Regions from separate parts of the Homo sapiens genome. Here regions 2 and 3 are each linked to region 1. Evidence: fine-mapped expression QTL. A gene starts in region 1. Each other region holds a variant in brackets. All regions are shown on one strand. Distances are between the middles of the regions.

Region 1 (8,176 bases):
GCAACCTCCACCTCCCAGGTTCAAGCAATTCTCCTGCCTCAGCCTCCCAAGTAGCTGGGACTACAGGTGCGTGCCACCATGCTTGGCTAATTTTTGTATTTTTAGTAGAGACGGGGTTTCACCATGTTGGACAGGCTGGTCTCAAACTCCTGACCTCAGATGATCCATCCGCCTCAGCCTCCCAAAGTCCTGGGATTACAGGCGCGAGCCACTGCACCTGGCCCAGACCAACAGTTCTCTAGCGTCTGTCCCAATACCAACAAAGGCAGCATGAGGCTTCAGTAAACTTATAAAAAGCCCCCTTGGCCGGGCGTGGTGGCCCACGCCTGTAATCCCAATACTTTGGAAGGCCGAGGCGGGTGGATCATTTGAGGTCAGGCGTTCAAGACCAGCCTGGCCAACATGATAAAACCTGTCTCTACTGAAAATACAAAAATTAGCCGGGCAGTAGTGGTGCATTCCTATAATCCCAGCTACTCAGGAGGCTAAAGCAGAAGAATCGCTTAAGCCTGGGAGGCAGAGGTTCTGGTGAGCTGAGATGGTATGGCTGCACTCCAGTCTGGGTAACAGAGTGAGACCCTGTCTCAAAAAAAAAAAGAAAAAAGAAAAAGCCCTCTTATGCCATGAAAGTATCAACACCCAAACAGCCTCATGGATCCTTGCTGTAACTTCCTAAATGAAACCTTCTGCAAAGTTCTCATGAGGTTTGGTTTGTTTTGAAAGGTTTCTAGGGCTACTACTGGCATTTACCTTTTTGTTCTCAAGATTCCCAACTTCACTGAAATTGCTCCCCAGAAACCAAAGAAAAAGAGTCAGCCTCACAGGAAAAAACGATCATACACAGGTAAATAAGGCAAGATGTATAGCTGGACTACCTTTAGAACCCTCCTACCACTCACCTTGAGGAGCCGGAAGATGAGCCTCTGGTGCATCTTAGAAAGAACAGGAAATCCCTTCTTATTGGTCAGGAAAATGCTAGTGGGGAGAATGGCTGCTTTGATGGGCTCCCCAAGCCAGCGATCAATGACATGATTAGATGGGAGGTCAGCCCCAATTTCAAGAGCTACATGAGGCAAAAGAAAAACTGTCAACCACTGCCAGGCAAGAAACCCTTCCTTGCTCCTTTGCGCAAAATCTGTTTACTTCTTTAAGAGAAAGCCAGTCTGAGACAGAGGGGAAGTAGCAAAATTGTATACTATATATGAAATTCCTGATTCTTATTCACAGGAGGTAAGAGAAGCCACACCCATCCCAGGATTCTCATGGACTCACCCACTGCAATCCTCTTACTATAGTCACACAAAGTCCGGAAGTTGTGCCACCTGTTCAGTCAAATACAGAAAAGTACAGTAAACTAGATATGGCCGACCAATCACCACAGCTCAAGGAGACCTCCCTACAGGTTGCACCCTGTACTTCCCCTCACCCTATCCCTTGCACCCTGGTACAGCAGCAAAGGGAGACATACCACATCCACGTTTTCTCCTCCCCACTGTACTCCTCTGTGTGTGTAGTTGGTGCATTCTCAATTATATCATCTCTCAGGTCCTCTGGTGCCACCAAGGGTACCCGCATCCAGAACTGCACATGAACAGTCACCCTTTTAGAACTCTCTTTTGAACTCATTGGGTCCAGAAAGTTTCCCTCAATAAAAAAAACTTCATCCAGACCTCGTTAATCCCTTTATATGCTTTTCCCAATTTGTAATTTTGTAAGTGAACATGTACCTTATATATAGATCCTTATGTAAATATCTGCCTTGTCTTACGTAAGTTTCCAAAATAATTACATTTACATGTTTTGAAACTCTCTTCATACCACTTTTAGATGGAGAGGTGCGCAATACTGACCTTTTTTTTTTTTTTTTTTTGAGACAAGGTCTGGCTCTGTCACCCAGGCTGGAGTGCAGTGGTGCAATCTCAGCTAACTGCAACCTCCGCCTCACAGGTTCAAGTCATCCTCCCACCTCAGCTTCCCAAGTAGCTGGGACTACAGGCGTGTGACACCCCACCTAGCTAATTTGTGTTTTTTTGTTTTTGTTTTGGTTTTGGTTTTTTATACAGACAGGATTTCACCACGCTGCCCAAGCTGGTCTCGAACTCCTGAGCTCAGTGATCTGCCCACCTCAGCCTCCCAAAGTGCTGGGATTACAGGCATCACCCACTGTGCCCGCCAATACTGATACTTCAATTCTGCCAAACACACCCTTCACTGAATGGCTAGGCACAAGAAGGTACTTAGCACAATCTGACTACTATGATATGCAGCAGGAAAGGAGCCCCTCAGCTATACCATGGAAGAGTGATGGCCAGTGTGGATGTGGTTGGTCAAAACTCTGGCCAGGTTGGTGTTATCTTCCTGATTAAGGGGCAGCAGGAAAGCTGGAAGACCCAAATATGCACCAAAATTCAGCTCCTGTAACATGGCCTGGAACGGAGATGAAGAGGAAAAGTTTGAGCTAACAAGCAAACAGCTTTTTTTTTTTTTTTTTTGAGACAAAGTCTCACTCTGTCACCCAGGCTGGAGTGCAGTGGCACAGTCTCCACTCACTGCAGCCTTGACCTTCCCAAGCTCAACTGATCCTCCCTCCTCAGCCTCCTGAGTAGCTGGGACCACAGGCATGCACCACCATGCCTGGCTAATTTTTGTATATTTTATAGAGATGGGGTTTCACTACGCTGCCCAGGCTGGTCTCGAAATCCCGAGCTCCAGTGATCCTACAGCCTCAGCCTCCCAAAGTGCTAGGATTATAGGTGTGCACCACAGCACCCAGCCTAATAGCTTTAATTTCATTCTATCAGTTAATTTACCAAGTTATTGGGGATGGGAGGGGACCACTCTCCCCACCCAGCTTGGTTAGAAAAATCCAGCAGAGAAGTCAAACAGTCTTACCGCCTCGGAGTTCCTGCGAATCTTCTCCACTTTTGAGTCTGGACGAATCCATGGAGAAAGCTTTCCCACAATTAGCGTATTCCAGTCTGCACTCCCCCACCCAAGAAAGACAAATACTGAATAAGGTTCAGCACTTTACTTGTTCAATTTTTAGTTTTGGGAATCAAGAGTAGAAATGAGAGACAAAGGTTTTTTCTACATAGACATGGGATAGCCTGATGCAGAATAGAGAAGCAAGGAGAAAACAAGTTATCTATATCCCAGGGACTAACAAATATATCCAAGTCAGAAAAGGAGGAGAATGAGGGCCCCGATAAAGCAGAAGTTGTTATTGCCTCTAATAATTAAGGGGCATATGGGATGGTCCCTACCCCTTCCTGACAGCAGTAGGTCTGATCGTGTCTGGGGACCGGGCCGATTCTTAGCAGGTTCCTGAATGAACTCCCTCTTGAAACGCGGATGGAAGACAGGCATGCAGAGGAAATCAAACCTACAACCGCGACAGACCCAGAATCATGTAAAGACAGCAGCAGTGCCAGAGAGCCAAGCAACTGGATTTAGGCTATCTTGATTTTGCACAGCCCTTTCAGCTGCCATCAGTTCAGCCTACTAGGCTGCTGAGTTCAGACCACCTTGGGGGATATCAACTCTGCTGTACTGTGCCTCAATTTCTCCCTAAAACACAGCCATGGGACATATGAGTAAGGAGAAAATGATGGATATCCACAAGTAGAATTTTTTTCTCCTCAGGTGTCAGTATGTTTCCAAGACCATCACATCCAGATTTGCCCCAGTTCTGCCCATGCCTCCCCCGTCAAAATTAGCCTCTTCTCTCCCTTGCCCCCTAACACCTCCTCCCACTCCCAGACAATAATCGCGACCTCCAGGGCCCTTTAGAGTTTACCCAACAACTCTCCCAACTTTGGGACTCAGTGACCACAGGCCTCCCACAAGTTATTTTCCTCACGTTACTGGGTCCGAGGCTCCTCCCCTCCAAAGAGTAATAGTCTCTCCCCTCCTCATCCTAGCCGACCCCCTCACCCCTGCTTCTCCGGGATGACTAGTCTGCCCTTCTCCGTCCCCGAGTTCGGACCCCGCATTCCGCTCGTGGAGGTCCGGCCCTCACCCCTGCTTGGCCACAGCCCCTAGTGTGTCAGCTATTTCGGGGACGCAATTCAGGTCCCTCCCGCTGGACACGCGGCTCCCACCAGCACCCCCGACCGCCATCGCCGCCATCTTTCTCCTCGCGCTGTCCACGCCGGGATTCCTTGATACTAGTAGCCAATCACAAAGTCAAACTAGTGCCCCAGAAGGCGGGACGAGTCGCCTTAACAACCAGAGCGTCTGCCACAGCTCCCGAACAGGAGGGATGGGGAGTGGCTTTTCCTGCCAATCCGCGGGCTGCACAGTGGCGTACGGCATGGATCCACCAATCTCAGGGTCTGGTTCCTGACGAACTTCAATCTCCCAGAATGCTTAGTCTATCTGAAGAACGCCGTTGAGAGACTACACCGCCCATGAAACCCTGCAGTATAACCTTGAAGTACCATCACGGAGAGAAACAGTGCCATCTCAGGGCCAGTGGCGCAATGGATAACGCGTCTGACTACGGATCAGAAGATTCCAGGTTCGACTCCTGGCTGGCTCGGTGGGGTTCCTCGCAGCTTCGCTGCGTGAGCATTTTGTAATTTTCCTTTCCTTTCGCAGCTTGATGCTTCTTTATTATCTTCACGCTTTCATTATCAGATCCTGAGTCGGTTGGGTTATGCAGCCATGTAATGTCAGCTTTTCCCGTAACTACCCTCAAAAGTGTTTTTCTTGTGTCATTATTTACGTCCATATGAACACTGAGAAAACTGGGTTAATGGCTGGTGCTATTAAAATGAGCTTTGTCACCTTACTATGTTACATATTAAAATAAACTGCTAACTCAGCTACTACTTCCTAGTGATTCTAGGAAGTAGTGTTTTGTGTTTCAAACACAAAAGGTGTAAATAAACGCCTAAACACACACACACACCTCAAGATAGAGAAAAGGAATTCATTAATTACAGTGGGCAGCAGTCATGAAATTGGCTGGCATGGAGGCCAGAGAGAATCTACATTTTCTCATGTCATTAGCTGCTAGAGATGGAAAGGAAGGAAGCAAGGAAAGACATAGGGAGGTAAATGGGAACTCCAGAAGGCAGGGGGCCCACTGGTGTTGAGGGCTCGGCAGCAAGGATGGAGAGGAGAACACGGTACAAGAGACCCCACGCAGGCGCCGCTGGCAGAACTTAGGGACCGACTGGCAAGGAGTCCTGAGAAAGCAAAGTAGGGGGTGATGCCTAGGATTCTGTCCATGCAGTGAGCAAGAAATGCGGAAAGAGGGTTTGGGAAATCAGGGTTTGGGTTTGGTCATGCTGAATTGAACGTCTAGGGGGCGCTGTGTAATAGAAAGTTGGATGGAGGTCGCTAGAAGAAAAGAACTGAGGCCATGCGACTGAGATCACCATAGCTCGTTGGGGACAGAGCCATAGGAAATACGAAAAGGGTGTGGGGTAGGATAAGTTCTGGGGAACCCTGGGTGCAATGCAAGTGCCCCAAAAGAATGAAAGCCGGAAAACCGGCCGGGCGCGGTGGCTCACGCCTGTAATCCCAGCACTTTGGAAAGCGGAGGCGGGTGGATCTCCTGAGGTCAGGAGTTCGAGACCAGCCTGGCCAACATGAAAACTCCCCGTCTCTCCTAAACGTGGTAGCAGGCGCCTGTAATCCCAGCTACTCGGCCAGCTACTCGGGAGGCTGAAGCAGGAGAACTGCTTGAACCCGGCAGGCGGAGGTTGCAGTGAGCCAAGATCACGCCACTGCACTCCAGCCTGGGCAACAAGAGCAAAATAATGTCGGGGCAGGGGGAGGAGGAAAGGAAAGTCGGAAAAACCAAAGCATTTAAAAAATGCACCATGAAGGCCAGGCTGGGCACAGTGGCTCACGCCCGTAATCCCAGCACTTTGGGAGGGCGAGGCGGGCGGATCACCTGAGGTCGGGAGTTCGAGACTACCCTGACCAACACGGAGAAACCCATCTCTACTAAAAATACAAAATTTAGCCAGACGTGGTGGCGTGCGCCTGTAATACCAGCTACTCAGGAGGCTGAGGCAGGAGAATCACTTGAACCTAGGAGGTGGGAGGTGGAGGCTGCAGTGAGCCTAGATCATGCCGTTGTACTCCAGCCTGGGCAACAGCAAGACTCCGTCTCAAAAAAAAAAACAAAAAAAAACCCCAGCACTTTGGGAGGCCGAAGCAGGCGGATCACGAGGTCAGGTGATCAAGACCATCTTGGCTAACACAGTGAAACCCCGTCTCTACTAAAAAAAATACAAAAAAAATTAGCCGGGTGTGGTGGCAGGCGCCTGTAGTCCCAGCTACTCAGGAGGCTGAGGCAGGAGAATGACCCAGGAGGCAGAGCTTGCAGTGAGCCGAGATCGTGCCACTGCACTCCAGCCTGGGCGAGAGAGCGAGACTCCATCTCAAAAAAAAAAAAAAAAAAAGCTCCATGAAGCCTGAAGTGATTGGAGGTGCTTTTGTCCACTATTATCGTTACTATTTTTCTGCTCCAGGATCCCATGCAGCATATCATATGACATTTAGTTGCTATGTCTCCTTAGGCTCCTCTTGGCTATGACAGTTTCTCAGATGTTCCTTGTTTTTGATGACTTTGGTAGTTTTGAGGAGTACTGGTTAGGTATATTGTAGGATGCCCCTCTATTGGAATTTGTCTGTTTGTCTCATGATTAGACTGTGTTTTGGGAAGGAAGGTCACAGAGTTAAAGTGCTGTTTTTGCCGGGGGCAGTGGCTCAGGCCTGTAATCCCAGCACTTTAGGAGGCCGAGGCAGGCAGATCACCTGAGGTCAGGAATTCGAGACCAGCCTGGCCAACATGGTGAAACCCCGTCTCTACTAAAAATACAAAAATTAGCCAGGAATGGTGGCATGCGCCTGTAATACCAGCTACTCGGAGGCTGAGGCAGGAGAACTGCTTGAAACTGGGAAGCAGAGGCTGCAGTGAGCCGAGATCACACCACTGCACTCCAAGCCTGGGTGACAGAGCGAGACTCCATCTCAAAAAAATAAAAGTGCTATTTTAATCACATCATATCAAGGGTACATACTATGAACATGATTTATGACTTAATGTTGACCTTGATCACCTGAAAAGAAGTAGTTTATCCAGTTTTTCCACTGTTAAGTGATTCTCTCCCACCCTCTCCCCGGCCCCAACTTTCCATACTGTATTCATTGGAAGGAAGTCACTATGCTCCCCCTCCTTAGAGTTGGAGTATCTACAGAATTTATTTGGAATTCTTCCCTCCAGGTCTTTCCAATAAATGGTTGTTCTCAGCAAGTGGGTGAGTACTCCACCAGCATTTTATTTATTTATATTTTATTTCATTTTTCATTTTATTTTGAGACAGAGTCTTGCTCTGTCGCCCAGGCTGGCGTGCAGTGGCATGATCTCAGCTCACTGCAACCTCCACCTCCCGGGTTCAAGCAATTCTCCTGCCTCAGCCTCCCAAGTAGCTGGGACCACAGGTGTGCACCACCATGCCTGGCTAATTTTTGTATTTTTAGTAGAGACGGGGTTTCACCATGTTGGCCAGGCTGGTTTCAAACTCCTGACCTCAGGTGATTCACCCACCTCGGCCTCCCAAAGTGCTGGGATTACAGGTGTGAGTCATGACGCCCCACTTTCACTGGCATTTTAAGAGGTAAAAGAAAGAGTTGTTGAGGAGGTCTGCTTGTTCTCTGCCCTAGTTGTGCCCAGCCAAACTCTACATTCACAGAAGACTTGTTAGATGTTTTTTCTTCTTTAGAAGCTAATTGTCTAGATTGTGGACCATCTGTGCTCCTGGCATCTCACTCCTGATGTCAAGCAGGTAGCTGCTCTGTTGGTTGTTAACTAACCCATCATGGGTGACAGGGAGAGAGGACAATCTATAAAACAATAATGTCAGTTTTGCCATCAGTTAAAGTAATTTTCTAAAGGATTCATGTAAAAAGAACCTAGAATTTCTGACTGACCCTAAAGTAAGTTTACATGGGCTGAATTTCTTTGGTCTGTGCTGTCTTTGTCTTTTCATTCCAAATGGCCTCGGCATTGTGGCTAGCATCATGCTGAACAGTTCTCAGTAACTCCATACCACGTTGCTCTCAGCCTTTTCTATAGCACTTTCCTGTGCCATAAAACACAGCATGTAACCGTGGGTCTGTCTACATGAGTTGTAGAGGAGCAAGAAGGGAAGGAATG
Region 2 (8,176 bases), 37 kb before region 1:
AAAAAAAATATAAAAATTGGCCAGGCATGTGGCTCACACCTGTAATCCCAGCACTTTGGGAGGCTGAGGCAGGAGGATCATTTCAGTTCAGAAGTTTGAAACCAGCCTGGGCAACATGGCAAAACCCTGTCTTTACAAAAAATTAGCTGGGTGTGGTGTCATTCAGATAGTCCCAGCTACTTGAGAGGCTGAGCTGGGAGGAACCCTTGAGCCAGGAAGTTAAGGCTGCAGTGAGCTGTGATTGTACCACTGCACTGCAGCACGGGCAACAGAGCAAGACCCTGTCAAAAAAAAAAAAAAAAAAAAAAAAAAAAAAAGCAGTGCACCTGTAGTCCTAGCTACTCAGGAAGTGGGAGGATTACTTGAGCCCAGGAGTTCAAGGCTGAAGTGAGCTGCAATCACTGCCTTCCAGCCTGGGTGATAGAACGAGAACTTGTCTCTTTAAAAAAAAAAAAAAAAGGGCCGGGCGCCATGGCTCACACCTGTAATCCCAGCACTTTGGGAGGCCAAGGTGGGTGGATCACAAGGTCAGGAGTTCGAGACCAAGCTGGCCAATATGGTGAAACCCCATCTCTACTAAAAAGTGCAAAAATTAGCTGGGCGTGGTGGCAGGCGCCTGTAATCCCAGCTACTAGGGAGGCTGAGGCAGGAAAATAGCTTGAACCCAGAAGGCAGAGGTTGCAGTGAGCTGAGAACGTGCCACTGCACTCCAGCCTGGGCGACAGAGTGAGACTCCATCTCAAAAAACAAACAAGCAAAAAAAAAAAACCTATATAAGGTGTTACTACCTGTTTAACAGTAGAAGAAACAGAGTGTAAGTAACTTGCCTGAGGTTACCCGGTAAGCAGTAGAGTTGGGATTTCATGTCTGCTTGATACTTTTTTTTTTTTTTTGAGATGGAGTCTTGCTCTTGTCACGCAGGCTGGAGTGCAATGGTGCGATCTCCACTCACTGCAACCTCCACCCCCCGGGTTCAAGTGATTCTTCTGCCTCAGCCTCCCGAGTAGCTGGGATTACAGGCACCCACCACCACGCCCAGCTAATTTTTTGTATTTTTAGTAGAGATGGAGTTTCACCATGTTGACCAGACTGGTCTTGAACTGCTGACTTCAGGTGATCCACCCACCTCAGCCTTCCAAAGTGCTGGGATTATAGGCGTGAGCCACCGCGCCCAGCTCTGCTTGATACTTAATGATGATTTTATCCAGCTTTGCATCTGAGGCTCCCTTTCCAATAAGGATGGGAGGAAGAGAAAGAGGGGACAGCAGTCAAGATGCGGGGACACAATGGGCAGGGCCATGTGCAGTGGCTGTGGTGAAAGGTCCAGAGAAATTACATGGCTGTAGTGGAGTAAGCAAGTTCTAAATTCTGAAGACCATGAACAGAGGCAGCTCAAATTTTAAAACACAGGAAAACACACTGGGCCCATTAAGGGACCAGATGGCTGTACAGTTGGGTTGAAACCTCAGGGACATGAAGAGGAGGGGTAAGAGATGAGCATGGAAAAGAAGGTTTGGAGTCCCACTGTAAAGGACCTTAAATGCCAGGAAAAAGAGTTTGTGCCCAACTCTGTAGGCAGGGAGAGTCACTGCAGGTATCTGAATGTGGAAGTCATGATTAGGATGGTCTTTTGGGAAGAGGAGGCTGGGAGAGGTGTGTATGGATTGGAGCTGCAGAGGCAAGTACTGAGGAGCTGAGTTTAGGGACCAGTTAATAGTGATACATACAGAGGATAATGAAAGGCCATCCTGAGGGGGGTGGCAGTGGGAAAGGAAGGAGGCATGGGTTTGAGCATCAGAATCAATGGGACTTGGCAACTTAGTGGATGAGTATAAAGAGAGGAAAAAGTTGTAGGTGGTGAGAGGATGGTGCAGAACTTGGAGTAAAGGGGCAGAGGAGGTAGTGAGAGTAAGGAGCTCCATTTTGGAGACACTGAATTTGAGATGCTAGAAGAACATCTATATAGAGTTTCAGCAGCTCTCTAGAGTTGAATCTGAATCTGAAATTCAGAACAAGTTGGGACAAGAGAAACAGATTTGAGAATAATTACCATAAAGATAGTAGTAGAAGAGCAAGGAGAAAAGGTGACCTGTGCAGTCACATAGGGCCCTAAGCTTAGTTTAATGTTCTGCTGTTATGTTCTTAAAATTCTTCGAACAAGGAGCCCTGTATTTTCATTTTGCAAGGGGATCCACAATTATACTAAGGGAGAAGGTGCAGTACAGGCTGGGATCCTTACCCCAGACTACTGATGGAGTCTGCGTCTTGTGAAATGGTACATACAATCTGATGTATTTGTGTAGTCATACCTGTGTCTGAGAATAGGGTTCATGAATTTCATCAGATTCACAAAAGGGTTTGTTACAGGCCAGGCACAGGATGGCTCATGCCTGTAATCCCAGCACTTTGAGAGGCCGAGGCGGGTAGATCACCTGAGGTCAGGAGTTCGAGACCAGCCTGGCCAACATGACGAAACCCCATCTCTACTAAAAATACAAAAATTAGCTGGGCATGGTGGCACATGCCTGTAATCCCAGCTACTTGGGAGGCTGAGGCAGGAGAATTGTTTGAACCCAGGAGGTGGAGGTTGCAGTGAGCCGAGATCGTGCCACTGTACTCCAGCCTGGGCAACAGAGTGAGATTCTGTCAAAAAAAAAAAAAAAAAAAAAAAAGATGGTACTGGCTGCTTCTGGAAAGGGGAACTGGGTGAGTAGAAGACCAGGATGGGAAGCTGACTTTTCATTGTATGCCCTTTTTCTTTTCTTTTCTTTTCTTTTTTGAGACGGAGTTTCACTCTTGTTGCCCAGGCTGGAGTGCAATGGCACGATCTCACTGTAACCTCCGCCTCCTGGGTTCAAGCGATTCTCCTGCCTCAGCCTCCCGAGTAGCTGGGATTACAGGCATGTGCCACCACACCCGGCCACTTTTGTATTTTTGGTAGAGATGGGGTTTCTCCATGTTGGTCAGGCTGGTCTCAAACTCCCAACCTCAGGTGATCCGCCTGCCTCAGCCTCCCAAAGTGCTGAGATTACAGGCCTGAGCCACCGCGTCCAGCCTGTATGCCCTTTTTCTACCTTTGGAAATTTTTTTTTTTTTTTTTGAGACAGAGTCTTGCTCTGTTGCCCAGGCTGGAGTGCAGTGTGGCACAATCTCAGCTCACTGCAAACTCCACCTCCTGGGTTCAAGCGATTCTCCTGCCTCAGTCTCCCGAGTAGCTGGGATTACAGGTGCCCACCACCACGCCCAGCTAATTTTTGTATTTTTAGTAGAGACGGGGGTTTCACCATCTTGGCCAGGCTAGTCTTGAACTCCTGACCTCATGATCCACC[C/T]ACCTCAGCCTCCCAAAGTGCTGGGATTACAGGCGTGAGCCACCGCGCCTGGCCTACCTTTGGAACTTTTAACTGTGTCATTTAGTACCACTTCAAAAATGAAACGAAATAGGCCGGGCACAGTGGTTCACGCCTGTAATCCCAGCACTTTGGGAGGCCAAGGCCGGTGGATCATGAGGTCAGGAGTTCAAGACCAGCCTGGCCAAGATAGCGAAACCCCATCTCTACTAAAAACTACAAAAATTAATCAGGCGCAGGGGTGGGCACCTGTAATCCCAGCTATTCGGGAGGCTGAATCGCTTGAACCTGGGTGGCAGAGGTTGCAGTGAGCTGAGATCATGCCACTGCACTCCAGCCTGGCGACAGAGAGAGACTCCGTCTCAAAAAAAAAAAAAGAAAGAAACAAAATAATTTAAAACAAAGCCTTAGGGGTCCAGAGAAAGAAGAGGGAACAAGGAGATCCTGGGGATATATAGATGGAGAAGGTGGAGAAGCAGCTGCCAAAGAGGTAGTGGGAGAACTAGGATTGAGCCTGTTGTGACTGCTGCCAGAGGAGGGGTTTCTAGGAGAGTATCACCAATGGTCAGATGTGGCCAGAGAGGAGGATGAGGAACAAGAAAGGCCCAGTGCCTTTTACGTGGCAGAAGCTTAAAACATGTCTTTCGTGTATGGAAGACCATGATGGCAAGACCTCCCCCACGAGGGGAGCCACACACCATGAGCCTCCCTCCCCCAACTCAGCCAGTCCCATCAGCCCGACCCATCTGTGTGTTCCCTCCAGACGCCTACAGGGAATAGCTCAGAACAGACGGAAGCTGAAGCCAGGCTCCCGCCAGACTTGGGAGAGGTGAGGCCTTCTCTGAGAGCCAGGCCATTCTCTCTTTCTCTCTCAAGGCAAAGTAGAGCCATTGATCTTGGCTGGGGTGAGAGGTCAGCAGAGGGCACTGGGACCTGAGCTGCCATGCCAGGTAAGGTCCTTTCTGTCCTCATGCATCTCTTAACCACTGCAATTTTGTCTTGGAGTCCGTGTTCCCTTACCAGCCCCTGCCCAGCCCCTGCTACTCCCACTCCCCTTTGCCCACAAGACCGCCTCATTGGCCCAGAGCATAGACTTTGTGTGCTCTCCCCTGAGGGTCAGAGGAACGGGGGAGTCCTGCATCTGGAAATTTTTCCACTCTGGGCCTCTGCCTACAGATGAGCTTTTAGGCCGTGCTGCATCTGAGCCCTCTAGAGAGACTGGAACAGGGGCTCTTCTCTTCTGAAAGACTGCCGGGGTCATACGTGGAAGTCCTCTGGGTTAAACCCTCACTCCCAGGAAGTTCACACACACACATCTTTTTATTAATCTAATATAGTTTCAATCCACATCAATCTAAGTAAATTTTCCTGGACATTTTAATCTTTCATCCACAAATGCTAGAAGACATTTTGTTTCTCTCAAGTACTAAACATCTGCAATATGCCAATCAGTGTGCCGGGCCCAATGGGGAAAACAAATACAAATAAGACACAATTTCTGCCCGTCAAATAGCTTGCAATTAAGCTGGGGAGATGGATGAGGTGATACAGCACAAAACAGGCAAAATAGCAGCAAACAATACCACATTCTATCTAACTGGGGGCTACCTCATGTGCTCCAGGAATTCTGAATGGAAGAAACAGTAAATTTGGAAGACATATTTTAGAAACTGGGCCTTAAAGGATATGTAGGCTATAGATAGTTGAGAGAAAGAAGGAAAAGCATTCCTTGTGGTCAAACTACATGAGCAAATGCACAGAGAAGAAACAGTGGGCAGCCCACCACATGAGGAAAAGGCCCTTCCTATAAAGAAGGCAGCAAAATTTGGGTGGATGGTGCAGTCGTCAAAGGACACAAATGCCGGACAAGAGCATACTGCTTCTCAGGCCTTTATCATCTCGGTGACTCCCTGATGGATATGCTTAAGGTCCCTTTTCATCTATTTGAATATTGATGTCAAGTTTCCACAGCTTAGTGGCCTTGAAAACTCCAGATGTGAATGCAAATTCAGTAAGCCCTTGAATGCTTTTCAATTAGTGCTCAGGATGTTTCCTGGATGGGGGTCTGTGGATGAAGTCACTCTTAACCTGTCTGGTTTGCTGAACTCAGCTATGCTATCCCAACTCTAAAATGAAGAATACCTACCTTATAGCGAAGTCATGAGGACTAAATAAAAGAGCAAAGATCTTTGTAATTTCTCAAGCATTATACAGAGAAGCGGTGGAAGTAGTAATGCCTTTTGCAACCTATGTCCTGGCCCTTTATTTAGGCATCAAAGCAGCTTGCTAAACTCTCAAAGCACAGCACCATTTGGAGATAAAAATTTAAGTTATGGTCTACAAAGTCCAACGTGCCTTCCATAGGACTCACGGGTAACACTTTTTTGGGTTTTGTCATCTGATGGAAGGTTGGGGGACAGATTGGCAATTGAAGCTCCACGATGGTATTTTACTGCATGATTTTCCATTTTTGTGTTCAAATTACAACTTGACTTTAAGCAGAGGACCTGTGCTGATTTAAAATACTTACTCAGGTCGGGCAATTGGCTCACGCCTGTAATCCCAGCACTTTGGGAGGCCGAGGTGGGTGGATCACTTGAGGTCAAGAGAGAGACCAGCCTGGCCAACATGGTGAAACCCTATTTCTACTAAAAAAAATTACAAAAATTAGCCAGGCATGGTGGTGGGTGCCTGTAATTCCAGCTACTCGGGAGGCTGAGGTGGGAGAATCACTTGAACCCGGGAAGCAGAGGTTGAAGTGAGCAGAGATCGCAGTGAGCAGAGATCATGCCACTGCACTCCAGCCTGGGTGATAGCATGAGACTCTGTCTCAGAAAAATACATAAATAAGGCCCAGCCGGGCGCAGTGGCTCACGCCTGTAATCCCAGCACTCTGGGAGGCCGAGGCGAGCGGATCACTAGGTCAGGAGATCGAAACCATCCTGGCTAAAACAGTGAAACCCCATCTCTACTAAAAAATACAAAAAATTAGCCGGGCATAGTGGCAGGTGCCTGTAGTCCCAGCTACTTGGGAGGCTGAGGCAGGAGAATGGCATGAACCTGGGAGGCAGAGCTTGCAGTGACCCGAGATTGCGCCACTGCACTCCAGCCTGGGCGACAAAGCAAGACTCCATCTCAAAAAAAATTAATTAATTAATTAAAAATAAATAAATAAGGCCCAGTGCAGTGGCTCAGGACTGTAATCCCAGCACTTTGGGAGGCCAAGGCGGGTGGATCACCTGAGGTCAGGAGTTCGAGACCAGCCTGACCAACATGGAGAAACCCTGTCTCCACTAAAAATACAAAATTAGCTGGGAGTGGTGGCGCACGCCTGTAATCCCAGCTACTCAGGAGGCTGAGGCAGGAGAATCACTTGAACCCAGGAAGCAGAGGTTGCGGTGAGCCGAGATCGCACCATTGCACTCCAGCCTGGGCAACAAAAGCGAAACTCCATCTCAAAGAAAAAATAAAAATAAATAAATAAAAAAAATACTTATTCAGAAAGGAAAATGCCAGTGTAGGGCTAGGCTCTGGAGACCAACAAAGACAGGTGCTTGGGGGAGGCTGAGACGCTAAGGAAAGGGTGGTAACAGAGGGTGCTCTCAGGCAGTTGTGGTGGCTCACACCTATAATCCTAGCACTTTGGGAGGCTAAGGAGGGAGGATCACTTAAGCCCAGGAGTTCAAGACCACCTGGGCAACATAGCAAGACCCCATCTCTACAAAAAATACAAAACTTAGCTGGGCATAGTGGCACATACCTGTAGTTCCAGCTAATCAAGAGGATCATTTGAGCTCAGGAGGTTGAGACTGCAGTGAGCTGTGATGGCACCACTGTACTCCAGCATGGGCAACAGAGCCAGACCCTGTCTCAAAACAAAACAAAACTGAGTGCCCTGGTATTTTTCCCCTGCCAGACAAAGCTAATGGTGTTAGGTACCTTGAAGGTACCTGTGAGGGGGGCTCATTTTGATTTTTCGAAACCATCTGGTTAAAATCTAACTATGTGGACAGAGCCTCAAGCATAAAGAGATTGGGCTAGTGGGATCTGTTTTCCTGAAAACTAGGCAGGTTGTGTGTGACCCAAGACCTTGTAAGCTTGGGGCTTCAGTGCAGGAACAATTTATTTATTTAAAAATGAAGATTTATTTTCACCATTGCACTGCCCTTGCTTTTCCCCATAAACCTTGAGCTCTAAAGTTGGGGAGAATGAAGTCAGCTAGAAAATCAAGTGAGTAGGCATCCAGAGGAGTGAAAATACTGAGGACAGTAATGAGCCAAGTTCCAAACCTTTCTCAATGAATTCTCACAACATCCCTATGAGATAGGTGTTATCATTTCCTTTTTACAGATGAAGTGTGAGAGAAGTGAAGTAACCTACCCAAGCTTATTCAGCTAGTTTGTGAGGGAAGAGGGATCTGAACCATGCTGTGTGGTTCCAGAGTGTGACACTCGGCTACAGGGTGGAGGTCCCCTAGCTTGCTTATGCTCAGGAGTTGAGGAGGCGAATTCTTAGCACCACTAATTCTAAGCAAGTAGGCTTCCTGATGCCTGAAAGCTGACTGAAACTCCCATCCTTTCTGGAACATTGGCAAGTTTGACGGGTCTCCGATTTCCAAGGTCATTGTTTCTCCTTTCTACAATCCGGCACTGACTGGCTGCTTTCCAGTCTTCAGGCACCTCATCCATCTACCCATTGCTCTCAAAAATAACTGCTTAATGGCTCTCCAGAAACTCCAGCCAACTCCTTAAGGGCTCTTGAGAGCAGATCATCTGAACAACTAATAGACTTCATCCAACTTTTTGAAGTGATCTTTGCTCAGCTCTTTC
Region 3 (8,166 bases), 24 kb after region 1:
CTTTGGGAGGCCAAGGTGGGTAGATCATGAGGTCAGGAGACTGAGACCATCCTGGCTAACACGGTGAAACCCCGTCTCTACTAAAAATACAAAAAATTAGCCAGGCGTGGTGGCGGGCACCTGTAGTCCCAGCTACTCGGGAGGCTGAGGCAGGAGAATGGCGTGAACCTAGGAGGTGGAGTTTGCAGTGAGGTGAGACTGCGCCACTGCACTCCAGCCTGGGGGACAGAGCGAGACTTCGTCTCAAAAAAAAAAAAAAAAAAAAAAGAGATACACATTCATTCAGGGTGGTCAGACTCAAATAAGAAAATCATTACACAGAAGCAAGTAAAAGCTGAAATATGAATACTACGTCTAGAAACACATTATTATAAACAGCTTGACATAAATGGTATTATACCCTCCAAGCTTATACAGAGAGTATAAGGTGTTCTATGAGTCTGAACTTTCCTCCCTAAACCATTCTGAACCTCCTGAGAGAACTCATCCTTCCCTGCAGCAGGAGGACACTCCCACTCAGTATCTTGCTGAATAAAAAGAGTCCTTACAAAGGTCCTTGTTTTGGCCGGGTGTGGTGGCTCACACCTGTAATCCCAGCACTTTGGGATGCCGAGGCAGGCGGATCACCTGAGGTTGGGAGTTCCAGACCAGCCTAATCAACATGGAGAAACCCCATCTCTACTAAAAATACAAAATTAGCCGAGCGGGGTGGCGCATGCCTGTAATCCCAGCTACTCGGGAGGCTGAGGCAGGAGAATCACTTGAATCTAGGAGGAGGAGCTTGCGGTGAACAGAAATGGCGCCATTGCACTCTAGCCTGGGCAACAGGAGCAAAACGCCATCTCAAAAAAAAAAAAAAACAAAAAAACAAAAAGTCCTTGTTTTTATTCTACCAGCAACAAAACAAATAAGCATCTCTGATGGTTCTAAACCTCTGTCCCAAATCTAAAATCAAAATATATTATTCTCAAAAGAGCAGACCAGGAACCCTGAAGTCCAGCTGTGAGCAGAACAGACAGCTAGCACTCACCTGAATTGGGATCATAGTAGCAGAGCAGAGTGAAACATTTCTTTTTGAGCTGCTCCTCTACTTCTTGCTGTAGCCGAGCCCTCATCCACACAAAATCCTACAGTCATAGAAGTAAAGGCAGAAATGCGAATAGACTGTAAAAACTAGGACGTCTCAGCCAATGAATACATGATGATAACCTCAATAATAGCCAAAGAAAATGCATCAAGAGACATCAGAGAGACTCATTTTTCACCTATCAAATTAGCGAAGAATAAAATGACTGTCAAGACCCCATGTTGGTGAGAACATGGGGGATCCAGGAGCCCTGAAAATACCTTTCTGGATAGCAGTTTGGCATTAGGTACCAATATTCTGTATGAGTATGCACTGACTCAGGAATCCCACTTTTAGCACCAGCATTACAGAAATAATCATACAAAGGTAAAGACACATATGAACCAGCATGTTCATCTCCCTGTGGTTTCTAACAGCAAAAATGTGGAAACAACCTTAATATCCACCAATAAGGTTAAGCAAATTATTCTACATCCATATAATAGAATCCTAGCAGAGATTTAAACTGATGACATAACACTAAGCACTATGTGCCTAGATACTTTGCTAACAGTGCTATAGAAGCTATCATCTTATTTACATTTATGTATTGACTTGAAAAGAAATCCAAAATATATTACATGAAAATAGACTGTACTTTTCTTTTTTTGAGACAGGGTCTCACTCTGTGCCCAGGCTGGAGTACAGTGGCATGATCACAGCTCACTACAGCCTTGACCTCCCACCCTCAAGTCATCCTCCTGCCTCTGTCTCCCGAGTAGCTGGGACTACAGGTGTGCACCACCAAACCTGGCTTTTGTTTTGTTTTTTTTTTGGTAGAGACGAGGTCTCACTATGTTGCCCAGGCTGGTCTTGAACTCCTGAACTCAAGTGATCCTCCCACCTCAGCCTCCCAAAGTGCTACGATTATAGGCGGAAGTCACTACACTCGGCCTTATACTCTCTATATAAGCATGAAGGGTATAATACCATTTATGTCAAGCTGTTTATAATAATATTGTGCTTCTAGATGCAGTATTTCAGCTTTTACTTGCTCCTGTGTAACGTTTTTCTTATTTGAGTCTGACCACCCTGAATGTGTATCATTTTTACAAAAACAATAAAGCTTGACAAAAAAAACATTTTAAAGATATGGGAGAAATTAAACCATTTCATTTATTTGGTTCCAATATCTCCCCGCCAACCTCTGAGAGTGGCATGAGTTCCAGAAGGTCCGCTTTCTCCAGCCCCAGCAGTGGAGGTATCTCCCTCTCCTGGCTAGGACCTAAGAGCCGCATCAGTTCAGTTACAAGCAGCCGCTGTTCAAGGGTCTCATGAAACTGAGAGAGAGAGAATAAAAAACAAAAAGAGGCAACTATAAAACTTCTCCCACTCCACCTCTTCCATCCTTATGAACCAGTTTTTCACATATTTTCAAAGTCCTCAAATATATCATCCCCCCTCAGATAACTCAGCTGCGAGTGACTTCTGTCAATGTTTCTATTACAAACTCTGATAACACATCCACTCCTTCCCCATAACTACAGTCCATTTCTCTTTTGACAAACCATTTCTCAAAGCTCCTACTTCCCCTAGATCACATCATCAGACAAAGCCACAGTTGGCCTGGTCATTCCTGTAACTGGTAACCAACCCCACCTCATTTCTTTCACCTCACTTTTTTTTGAGACTGAGTTTCGCTCTGTCACCCAGGCTGGAGTGCTGTGGCGCAATCTCGGCTCACTGCAATCTCCGCCTCCCAGGTTCAAGCGATTCTGCTGCCTCAGCCTCCCGAGTAGCTGGGATTACAGGCGTGTGCCACTGCACCTGGTTAATTTTTGTATTTTTAGTAGAGACGGGGTCTTACCATGTTGGCCAGGCTGGTCTCAAACTCTTGACCTCAAGTGATCAGCCTGCCTGGGGCTCCCAAAGTGCTGGGATTACAGGTGTTAGCCACCACGCCCAGCCTTTGCCTCACCTTTTTGTCCTCAGAAGTTACATTTGTGTCTTGTATCTTCACATAGTAGTCCACAAGCAACTCTTGAATGACTCTGTGTAAAATCTCAGACCTCAACCATGTTGTCTTATGCAGTCGAACTTCCTTCCATGCCTAGAAATCCAAAAAATCTCAGGTAGGAACCTCTCTCTCAGGATTTTCCCTTCTTCTTATCTCTTCTCCCAAAGCCCTTACCTGAGCCTGCTCCTTTGCTAGGGTGAGGCTTAAGCCACTCTCATCCACATGCTGTGAGAGATTCAGGAGAAGCTTGCTGAAGTATGGGTTCTGTAACAGGTCCTCTTTACTCAGGTTACAAGGAGGAAGTTGTTTGCTGCACACTTAACATCATGTCCCCACAGGTACAAAAAAACAAAAAAGGTGTGGACTCTTACTTTACATAACTGAGCATAACTTAATACTTCCAAAAAACCCCTAGGATTTTTATAGGAAAGATTGCTAAATCTAATGAGATTTTTTAAAAATCCACAAATAAACAAGGGTAATATTCAAGGTAACAAGCATTTATATTATATACAAGGATATTAAGGGGGAATAAGTAATAAACTAAGATCTTAGGAAACGGAAATGCAGTTGGTACATATTAGACAAATAGAATAAAAATTAAGGGACCGTTAGTAGGAATCACAATACACAAAATGCCTCATTCATCCAAAATTAATAGAGTTCTTGAAGTAGGGGGAAAGAAACACAACACGTGAAGTTCCAACTTTGGATGTGATATGTAGTCGCATAAACAAGACTAACAGAATACACTTAGAGTAAGTTAAACGTTCAACTAACCAATTTTTTTTTTTTCTTTTTGAGACAGGGTCTCACTCTGTCACCCAGGCTGGAGTGCAGTGGCACAATCACAGCTCACTGCAGCCTTAACCTCCCCAGATCAAGCGATCCTTCCACCTCCTGAGGAGCTGAGACTACAAGGCAAACCACGATGACTGGCTAATTTTTTTTTTACAGACAGGGTCTCACTACATTGCCCAGGCTGGTCTTGAACTCTTGGGCTCAAGTGATCCTCCCACCTTGGCATCTCAAAGTGCTGGGATTACAGGTGTGAGTCACCACAGCTGGCCCAAATTCTTTTTTATTTTTTTCTTTTGAGATGGAGTTTTGCTCTTGTTGCCCAGGCTGGAGTGCAATGGCGTGATCTCGGCTCACTGCAATTTCCACCTCCCGGGTTCAAACGATTCTCCTGCC[T/A]CAGCCTCCCGAGTAGCTGGGATTACAGGCATGCGCCACCATGCCTGGCTAATATTTTTTGTTTTTTGTTTTTTTTTTGAGACGGAGTCTCACTCTGTCACCCAGGCTGGAGTGCAATGGCACGATCTCGGCTCACTGCAAGCTCCACCTCCCAGATTCACGCCATTCTCCTGCCTTAGCCTCCCAAGTAGCTGGGACTACAGGCACCCGCCACCACGCCCAGCTATTTTTTTTTTTTTTTTTGTATTTTTAGTAGAGGCGGGGTTTCACCTTGTTAGCCAGGATGGTCTCAATCTCCTGACCTCGTGATCTGCCCGCCTCGGCTTCCCAAAGTGCTAGGATTACAGGTGTGAGCCACCGTGCCCAGCCTCTAATTTTTGTATTTTTAGTAGGGACGGGGTTTCTCCATGTTGGTCAGGCTGGTCTCAAACTCCCAACCTCAGGTGATCCGCCCGCCTTGGCCTCCCAAAGTGCTGGGATTACAGGCATGAGCCACCACACCTGGCCAGCTGGCCCAAATACTTATAATTGTCAGTAGAGTTGAGTAACCCATGTAGATACAAAACAGCACAGGCATGAGAAAAAAGTGTAAGAAATTGAGATCCTCTGGTTTTTCCATATGCTCAAGGAGCTTTCTTTCCATTTCTTTTTCCATATGCTCTCTGTTGGGGTCTTTTACCTCTACTTGCCAAAACACCCAAATTTTCATTCTTTGGAACATTATACCCAAAGTCTTTTTGGGAAATAAGAAATCTCTCTTTTTCCCTAAGGTACTGAAGCATCCAATATGGAAATAGTCAAGATATAGAAAATGCAAGCTCTTGAAGGATTCAAGATATAGAAAGGATCTGAGATATGGAAAGAACTCAGGATATAGAAGGATCTGAAATTTTGGAGACTAAGATATGAGAATATTTAAGACACAGGTAGGAAGGACACCTTCAAGGAATTTGCTGGCTACCCTTATTTTTATAATATGCTTGCTAACATCAGCATGGGAGCATCTTGAGTTTTTAGCCTACTACACAAGCAGATATTGAACCAACATTAACAGGAATTAGTGTAGTCTGTTTTCCAATAAGAGAGTGTTCAAGGATCTTCATGTATTCCAGTTTCCTCAGAAACACATGCTTCTGTGAGGAAAACCATACTGGGGAAACTTATAAATCCTTTTTTTTTTTTTTTTTTGGAGTCTTGCTCTGTTGCCCAGGCTGGAGTACAGTGGCACGATCTCAGCTCACTGCAAGCTCCGCCTCCCAGGTTCACACCATTCTCCTGCCTCAGCCTCTGGAGTAGCTGGGACTACAGGTACCCACCACCACGCCCAGCTAATTTTTCGTATTTTTAGTAGAGACAGGGTTTCACCGTGTTAGCCAGGATGGTCTCGATCTCCTGACCTCGTGATCCACCCACCTCAGCCTCCCAAAGTGCTGGGATTACAGGTGTGAGCCAATAAATGCTTTTTACTAGAAAAGGCAAGAACCTGGATAAGACCTCTCTGGATAAATCATCAAACCTTTTGCAAGTGGCTACTCTTACCTTGTTGAAGTATTTCCATCCCTTCTCCAGGTGAGCAGAAATCCCCGGATGCCATTTGATTTTCTTGGGATTCTAATCTGTGGAACCAAGAAGTGAAAGAAAACAAAAAGATGAATAAACAGCTGGCTGCTCCAAGGACACTACCTTATGTTCAAATTTCTGCTGTCCACAAGCTGGAAAGGAACCTCAAGGATGACTTTTACAGAGGGCCTATACCACACATCCTGGGTCCCAAGCTCTTACACAAGCTTTATGGACAAACAGATTTACAAGTGCCAAAACATGTCACATTCTAAGCACACATGTGTTTCCACTTGCTCCAAGCTGTCCAAAAGGAGCATCCTAAAAAGAGAACTTTCCAATTCACTGAGTCTAAACAAGAGGATTCTCCACCACCACCACCATTATGCCAAAGTTAAAACTGAGCTGCAGCTTCCCAGTTATGAGTGAACTGGGGGAAAAGGGAAAAAAATCAAAGTCTACTTTTTCCCCCCAAATAACTCAGCTATCAAATTCCATAATAGTTTTTTTGTGCTTCTTTTTTTGTCTAAGATCTGTTGGTAGTTTTTTTTTTTTTTATCATTAACTCTAGAATCATCCTTCAGGAATGACAAATCATTCCACACTTGAACAACTGGTTTTCACATAACAGCCTAAGAAAAGAGCACCTGGAGGAAACAGCGTGACAAGAAGACTGACAGTGAGGTCAGTGGCAAAAGAGTAATGCAAAGGTGTAATGTGGCTACAACGAGAACGTGAGCTGTGGGTGTTTTGCCAGAACATGGAGTGCGCTGAAAGGAATGACACCAACACAGGGGCAGTAAAGATGGGCACAGTTTGACCTCAGGAGACAAAAATTTTCCCTTGACATTACTTTTCATGTTTTTGCTCTGCCCCTCCTCTCTGCAAGGTATCAAACTCCAAAGGGCAACTGAGCCTCCCAAAGCTGAACAGGCATTGAAGGTTATTATGATTTAACGCTTCATGTTTATAGAACATTTGGTTTACTCGATCGTTTTATGAGTAACATCAAAGTAACTACTCATTTGTTTTCTAACATGGTCTAGAGGGGGACGCAGCTGAGGAGGCAGAATGCTGGGACTTAATTTGCAGCTCGGCCGGCCGTTGCTTCTGAGAACTTAAGGAAAATGCTTTTTTCTGTGCCAAACTTTTCCCACCTGCAAAACTGAGATAACGATTCCTGCCTTGGATGAGACATTAAGAATTAATAACACAATCGACTTGTCAACAAAAGCCACTACTTAGTTAAGTTCAGTGTTTTAACAATTCTGTTTATCGTTGATCTATGACTGCAAATAAAAAGTTTTGCAGGCAAATTTCGCACTTGGAAATGAAGACCAACCCAAATTCCAAAAAGCTAGCTGTTCGTCCCCCCCTAGGGTAAGTGTCCCCTTGCGTTTTTTAGGGTGCCTTTCTTTACCCTTCTTAAAGGTTACAGGGCGTGAACGGCAATCAGGCTCGATTCTCCACCCTCTGCACTCAGACGTGTTAAAACGCTGCTACAGGGACCCAAGCATTTAAATGTTCTGACTCAGGCGTCTTTTAAATTCTTAGAGCTGTCTTTACACGCTGCACTGAACGTTAAATTGATTTTACAGGTTATTTTCACAAGATATGACCCTTACAGGGCCCGAGATGAATCAAAATGCAGAACGGGCTCTCCGGCGCCTACTTCCCTTCTGTCTGGGCGGCCAAGGATTCCCAAGAGCGACGACGGTCTCCGGCCACTGGCCGGAATGACTCTCCCAGAGCTCCTCTTCCCCGAAGCTCCGCCCGCCGACCCTCTAAAGCAAACCTGCACACCCTGGGGCAGCTGAAGCTCTCAAGGCGGTGCCGAGAACCTCGGCTGGGGCGGGCTGGCCAGCAGCGTCTACACCCCAGAACCCGCCCGCGCCGGGGCTCCGGAACCTCTCGTTCGGGCCGGGCGCAGGGGCTGGGGGAAGCGAGGCCCGGAAAGACCAAGCTGAAAGGCCCGGGAAGGGGAAGGAGCCGAAAGTGCACTAGAGGCCGCGACGAAGGAGGTGGAGGCGGGGCCACACTCGAGGCGGGAACGGCAGGCCCCGCCCCTCGACGGGTGCGCGCTGGGTTCCCAACGCCCTGGGTTCGCATGCTCGGGTGGTGGAACCCGGACTGGGAAACAGGATGGTCTCGGAAAGGCTTTTTTGCCCCTTCTCATTAGTGCCTCCCCAGTGAAGGGCAGATGCTGAGAAAATGGTGGTAATTGCTAACATTTATTGAGGGCCTACGATGAGTCAGGCACTACGCCAAGCATTTTGCTTGCCTTGCCTCGTTTTTTTTTTGAGACGGAGTCTCGCTCTGTCGCCCAGGC

What was found.
Region 2: its variant is fine-mapped to the expression of PRMT5-DT in whole blood (TOPMed, PIP above 0.99).
Region 3: its variant is fine-mapped to the expression of PRMT5-DT in lung (GTEx, PIP 0.99).

Annotation. Positions count from the first base shown.
Region 1 is chr14:22,925,234-22,933,409 of GRCh38, forward strand. PRMT5-DT (PRMT5 divergent transcript) reads left to right here and starts at 4,376. Exons shown (of 3, transcript NR_110002.1): 1 at 4,376-4,519. It overlaps PRMT5 (protein arginine methyltransferase 5), which reads right to left and starts at 4,143. Exons shown (of 17, transcript NM_006109.5): 1 at 4,019-4,143; 2 at 3,264-3,382; 3 at 2,893-2,978; 4 at 2,293-2,427; 5 at 1,469-1,581; 6 at 1,273-1,322; 7 at 900-1,063. The coding sequence starts at 4,128. TRR-ACG1-3 (tRNA-Arg (anticodon ACG) 1-3) reads left to right here and starts at 4,468; the gene lies at 4,468-4,540. LOC124903285 (a long non-coding RNA gene) reads left to right here. Exons shown (of 2, transcript XR_007064073.1): 2 at 1,228-1,669. RefSeq lists enhancers at 729-1,928, 3,987-4,096 and a silencer at 4,507-4,596.
Region 2 is chr14:22,888,556-22,896,731 of GRCh38, forward strand. RBM23 (RNA binding motif protein 23) reads right to left here. Exons shown (of 14, transcript NM_001077351.2): 14 at 4,649-8,176. Among named protein-coding and RNA genes, the nearest start is that of REM2, 9.4 kb to the left of the region's middle. The variant C/T (reference allele first, on the strand shown) is at 3,330.
Region 3 is chr14:22,949,284-22,957,449 of GRCh38, forward strand. HAUS4 (HAUS augmin like complex subunit 4) reads right to left here and starts at 7,807. Exons shown (of 10, transcript NM_001166269.2): 1 at 7,633-7,807; 2 at 5,817-5,893; 3 at 3,258-3,400; 4 at 3,045-3,176; 5 at 2,272-2,406; 6 at 1,031-1,127. The coding sequence starts at 5,871. PRMT5-DT (PRMT5 divergent transcript) reads left to right here. Exons shown (of 3, transcript NR_110002.1): 3 at 5,048-5,409. MIR4707 (microRNA 4707) reads right to left here and starts at 7,746; the gene lies at 7,667-7,746. RefSeq lists enhancers at 7,499-7,628, 8,011-8,166. The variant T/A (reference allele first, on the strand shown) is at 4,278.